Linked DNA regions of Homo sapiens: region 2 is linked to region 1. The links come from fine-mapping of genetic effects on gene expression. A gene starts in region 1. The other region holds a variant in brackets. All regions are shown on one strand. Distances are from middle to middle.

Region 1 (3,008 bases):
TCCTGTGATATTGATGCACCGGGTAGATGAACTTTGCAGAATACGCACAAGCGGCACAGCTTAGTGTGAGGCTAAATGGGGACACTGCAGTATTTCCAAAGCCAGCTGTGCATCAGAATCATCTTGGAGTTTGTAAAAAAAAAAAAAAAATCAGACTCCTGTGCCTCACTGCGCATCTCAGAAGCCAGAAATAAATACGGAGGTGAGGCACACAAGAATTTGTATTTTTAAAACGCACCGTAAGAGTGACTGGGAGACAGGATGACTCATTTTTTCACACTATTTGAAAAAATGTACCCATTTTTTGCAATTAAAACCATTTTTAATTTCCTATGTGACTTGAGCGCAGCAGGTCTGTGGCCGAAGTACCAGCCCCTGGGTTGGACAGACCCGGATTCCGGGCCCTTCTGCTTTCCGGCTTATAAACCGGAATCACTCGACCGTTATATGTAGAGTCCAGCATTGTACGCTCCCAGTAAGACATAACTGCTCTTAAGTTAACGTCTTTATTTATCCTGTGGCTTCCCGACCCCCACGCATACCGCAGTTTGAGAATTACCGCTGCTCAAGGATAAACAACTCTATCTGCGCAACCAGAAAAACCCACCAGAAGCCAGAGTCCGAGTCCGGGATTGGAGGCACGTGGGGCGGGACCATCTCCGCAATGTACCAATCAGAATTCTCCGGCCCAGTAGGGAGGAGTCAAAGGGCGAACAAAGTACGCAGGCGCGACGGCGCACGAAGGCGAGAGGCGAGCTCCAGCGCGCGCGCGCGCGCGCACCTTCCCCTCCCCCTACCCCAGCGAGGGTGGGCTGTTTGGCGCGCGCGCGCGCGCCGGCCCATCTCTCGGGCTCCGCCCCCCGCCCCGCCGCGCGCTCCCGCCCCCGGGCTGAGGCGACTCAGAGTCGGAGCCCGACACAAAGGCGGTGGCGGCGGCAGCAGCGGAGGGGCCCTAGAGCCCGCTCCGCTGGGGCTCTCCGGGCCCACCTCCCTCACTTCGGCCACCGGCGCGGCCGCCCACCCGCGGGTCTAAGATGGCGGCGGCAACAGAGACAGGGCAAGCGGCAGTCCCGAGCAGAAAGCGCCGGAGGGGCCGCCGCCCCCCAGCTTCGGATCCCCAGACCCTGGCGCGGCTCGCTGCGGGACCATGGCTTCCTGGGACTCTTACCTGCCCGGAGCGGACTGGAGGGGACGCGGCTACACGTTCTGCTCGACCGCCCGTTTTGCCGCCTCCGCCTCGCCCTCCCCAGCGCCGCTGCCGCCATCTTGTGTCCCGGGCCGGGACTCCGCGCTGCGCATGCGCTGGTACCGCCTCTGAGGGACCTCGCCGCGGCCGCGCCGCCATCTTGAGTGTGGCAGGGTCGGCTGGCTCCTCGCACCCAGCTTGCTTTCGGCCCCCTCCCCTTCTTCCCATCCGTCCCTGCTGTTCCTTGTGGCGCTGAGGAAGGGGAGACAGCTTTGTAGGCCTGCGGGTGGACTGAGGAAGGAATGAATTCACTGGCACGTCCCCGCCTCAGTTTCCCCCTCGAGCACACACGCAGGAGCCGGATGTTCGCGGTGGGCGGTGCGCGGCGGGGTTGGACTGAGCGTGCGCACTGGGGGGCGTGGGGGCTGTCTTAGAACCTGCGGGGGTCTCGGGTTCTGCCGCCGGCCCAGGGGAGGCATCGTGGTGACGTAGGCTCCGGACGTAGCAAGGACCTGGGTCCTGGCACCCGCGCGGCTCTGCCTCTTCCAGCCAGTCTCTTTCCCTCTCTGGGCCTTTGTGCTGCGTGGTGTCCAAATGTTAAGAAGCCCTGCCCCATGCCCGGGCTACATATACATCGAACCCAAGCTGTAAATGCTCTTGAGTAGAAGCAACTTAAACTAGCCTTCGGGGGCAAGTAATAGAGATGGCTTTCGGCAGAGTTGGGAAATCAACTAAATGCATTGTAGGGCCTTTCCAACATTGACATCTGTGGCCATTAGTTGCAGTTCAAAGCCTCACTGAGCCCTCAAACCAGCTACAGCGGGTAGCCTGGCAGGGAACTGGCAGCTGTGAGGTGCTCCTCATCCGGCTCCCTGCAGGATTCTTTTTGGTAGGAGCCTGCAGGCGTCCGAGTGGTAGCTCCACCCATCTCCGGTCTCCCCAGCAAGCATCCCTTCCAGTGCTAGCTTGAGAAGAGGAAAAGCTTGCCACCTGCTGTCAGACCGGCGCTTGTGTGGAGCCAGGGGCTGTAGGTACCCCGGCTGAGTAGCCTCTCAGATGTCCATGGTCCTGGCTGCACGCCAGCGTGGGGGCAGGCAGGCGGACGCTCAAGAAAAACGGAGGCACCGATATGAGTAGTAATTGAGAACGAGGGTTCATGATCCTCATCTGATTTCAATCCCTGCTCCTCCACCCAAAATGTGTGGCCTTGAAGGAGTTAACCAATTTAAATTTTAGTTTCCTCAGTGGAAGATAATAAATCCGCCTACCTCATAAAGGTTTGGTGAGAATTAACTCAGGTGATGCATGTGAAGTCCTCAGCGCAATACCTGGCGCTTCCTAAGTGCTGAATCGGTTAGCCGTGATCATCTCACAGTGGCATGAGCATTGCTCCAAGTAGATTTGAGCCCTCCAGAAATAAGCCAGCTCTATATAGGCACAGCAGTTCTGCCCTCGCAGAGCTTCTCGTTCAGATAAGAGGCCTGATGGGAAACCAGACTCCTGGGTCCTGTCTCAGTTCTGGAAGGGTGGGGGGCCAGCTTTGATTTATGCCTGCTGCCCTGGCATAATTACTAATATTGCCTCCTTTTTCAGAAGTGCCCTGCTTTGGGCCGGGCGTGGTGGCTCACCCCGGTAATCCCAGCACTTTGGGAGGCCGACGCAGGTGGACCACCTGAGGTCAGGAATTCAAGACCAGCCTGGCCAACACGGCGAAACCCCGTCTCTACTAAAATTACAAACATGAGCCAGGCCTGGTGGCGCGCGCCTGTAATCCCAGCTACTCGGGAGGCTGAGGCAGGAGAATCACATGATCCCGGGAGGC
Region 2 (2,500 bases), 28 kb before region 1:
ATGTCGGCTGTTGGGCGGTAGTATCCATGCTGCCCTCTAACCACAGGCTGTCTGTGTCATGTGACTCAATGCACCCATCAGTGGTCTGTGATGAGTGGGTGGGAGGATATTTTGGCTGGCCTCTGGCCCACTTGTCCACGTCTGTCCTGGTGTGTCAGTGGCTGGCTTGTGACCTGGCATGTCCGTGGCAGGTGTGGAAGGAGAGCCTCTAGTGAGTTCCCAGAGTGGACAGAGCCCTCCAGAGCCACAGGATCCCGAGGCTCCCAGCTCCTCAGGCCCAGGACACCTGGTGGCCATGGGCAAGGTGAGCAGGACCCCTGTGGAAGCTGGTGTGAGCCAGTCAGATGCAGAGAACGCAGCCCCCTCCTGCCCGGATGAGCATGACACTCTGCCCCGGCGCCGAGGTCGACCTTCCAGGCGCTTCCTAGGCAAGAAATACCGCAAGTATGTGGAGCAGAGGTGAGGGTGGGGCATGCATGTGGTTAAGCCACCAACCCCACCAGACCTTTCCGCCACACTCTCATCCTGCAGGTACTATTACAAGTCGCCCAAACCACTTTTGAGGCCCTTCCTGTGCCGCATCTGTGGTTCTCGCTTTCTGTCCCACGAGGACCTGCGCTTCCACGTCAACTCCCATGAGGCTGGCGATCCCCAGCTCTTCAAGTGCCTGCAGTGCAGCTATCGTTCCCGCCGCTGGTCCTCGCTCAAGGTGCGGGAGCCAAAGAGGCTTGGGGCTCATGGGAGGGTGAAGAAGGCAAGCAGAGGCCAGCTGGTGCCACTGAGGGAGAATGGAGTCACAGAGCATTCTGGGTCACGCTCTCCTGCTGCTCTTCAGAACGCGTGTCTGGCTCACTGGCGTACCGAAGAACGCTCAGCTCCTCAGAGCTTGCGGGAATGTGGGGAGGGGCTGGGAAGGGCTGCCACAGGCGGTTTTGCAGGCGGCACAGTGCACAGTGGCAGCATATCTTCACCACCACAGACGCCATAAAACTGTTTTCATCTGATTCCATGTGTTAGAAAGATTTCCAGCAGATGGCAGTCATGTGTCTCAAGAAAAGGGTTCCTTTTAGGCCAGGTGCAGTGGCTTGCTCCTGTAATCCCAGCACTTTGCGAGGCTGAGGCAGGTGGATCACCTGAGGTCAGGAGTTTGAGACCAGCTTGGCCAACATGGAGAAACCCCATCTCTACTAAAAATACAAAATTAGCTGGGCATGGTGGTGCATGCCTGTAATCCCAACTACTTGGGATGCTGAGGCAGGAGAATCGCTTGAACCCGGGAGGCAGAGGTTGCAGTGAGCCAAGATCACACCATTGCACTCCAGCCTGGGCAACAAGAGCGAAACTCTGTCTCAAAAAAACAAACAA[AC/C]AAAAAAAAAAAAACGGTTCCTTTTTCTCCTTAACACAAGCTACCATGTGGCCTGCAGCAGCCCTGAGCCTTTTATGCAGTAACTGGATAATTAAATCCTTATTGCAGCCCAATGAGGTCGTAGGTGTCCATAGTCCCATTCTACTGACCCCCAGGAAACTGTGGCTCGGCCTGGCCAATGTGCAAGTTGGCAGCTGTGGGAGAGGGTACTTCCGGGCACGGTGGTCAGAGCGAGCCCCTGTGCTCTGTGCACGCTGTGCTGTGGGCTGTTATGTGGGTTCTGCAGAGAAGATGTCTCGTGACGCAGTGGGAGAGGTGGAGGCTGCGGCGCCATGCTGCCTGGCTTCAGCTCCAAGCTCTGCCATCGCAAGGTCCCTCCACCCTGAGACTCAGGTTCCTTCTTTGTCAAGTTGTGAGCCAGCACAGAGCCTGGCACAGAGTGGGTGCTCTCGCTGGGGACAGTCCCCGGGCCTTCCTAGGTTTTGACCCTTGCGTCGGGGTGTGTTGTCCACATGCCTGTGTTCTGTGAGCTGCTCCCGCAGCAACCCTAAGACTGTGGCCACAGGCATGGTGGGGACGGGGATGGGAGAGGAGGCCAAGCCCCAGCCCACCATCCTTTTGTCTGTCTCCCAGGAGCACATGTTCAACCACGTGGGCAGCAAGCCCTACAAGTGTGACGAGTGCAGCTACACCAGTGTCTACCGGAAGGACGTCATTCGGCACGCCGCTGTGCACAGCCGGGACCGGTCAGTGTGGGGGTGGGAGGGACCTGGGCAAGAGAGGCCAGGTTGGGTGGGGAAGTGGAGGCCCGGGATAACCATGGTTCCCACTTACCGTGCTCCTGCTCTGAGCCAGCCCCATTTGCTGCACACTACAGGCATGAGCAGAAAGGCAGTTCACCCCAGTTCATTTGGCTTAGAACAGGACAGTACCAGGCCTTGAGGTCCCCAGCTCAGCCTCTTACCTCTTGTGAGCTTTAGTTTCTCATCAAACGGGGACAGTTGTTGAAGGGATTGAAGGAAATTGTGTACCTAAAGGAGTTCAGTAAATGATCCAAGATCTTCTGGACTCCAGATCCTACTCATCTCTCACAGGGCTGAGAGTGCACCTGAGACAGAGAAACACAAGTTCTTA

Alleles and levels. Positions count from the first base shown, and alleles are read on the strand shown. Sizes are in standard deviations (SD) of each study's normalised expression.
With allele C in place of AC in region 2, the expression in monocytes after LPS of the gene that starts at base 1,290 in region 1 is lower (large effect, 0.93 SD a copy in Quach 2016).

Evidence for each region. PIP is the estimated chance that this variant, and not a neighbour inherited with it, causes the effect.
Region 2: its variant is the best candidate, but not a certain one, in a credible set for the expression of PCIF1 in monocytes after LPS (Quach 2016, PIP 0.66).

What each region holds. Positions count from the first base shown.
Region 1 is chr20:45,932,965-45,935,972 of GRCh38, reverse strand. PCIF1 (phosphorylated CTD interacting factor 1) reads right to left here and starts at 1,290. Exons shown (of 17, transcript NM_022104.4): 1 at 1,169-1,290. LOC107985388 (pre-mRNA-splicing factor cwc22-like) reads left to right here and starts at 902. Exons shown (of 1, transcript NR_171669.1): 1 at 902-2,479. RefSeq lists a silencer at 760-969 and enhancers at 598-1,288, 1,289-1,980, 2,240-2,389, 2,672-3,008.
Region 2 is chr20:45,961,682-45,964,181 of GRCh38, reverse strand. ZNF335 (zinc finger protein 335) reads left to right here. Exons shown (of 28, transcript NM_022095.4): 8 at 192-444; 9 at 532-709; 10 at 2,000-2,112. Among named protein-coding and RNA genes, the nearest start is that of ZNF335, 9.3 kb to the left of the region's middle. The variant AC/C (reference allele first, on the strand shown) is at 1,366.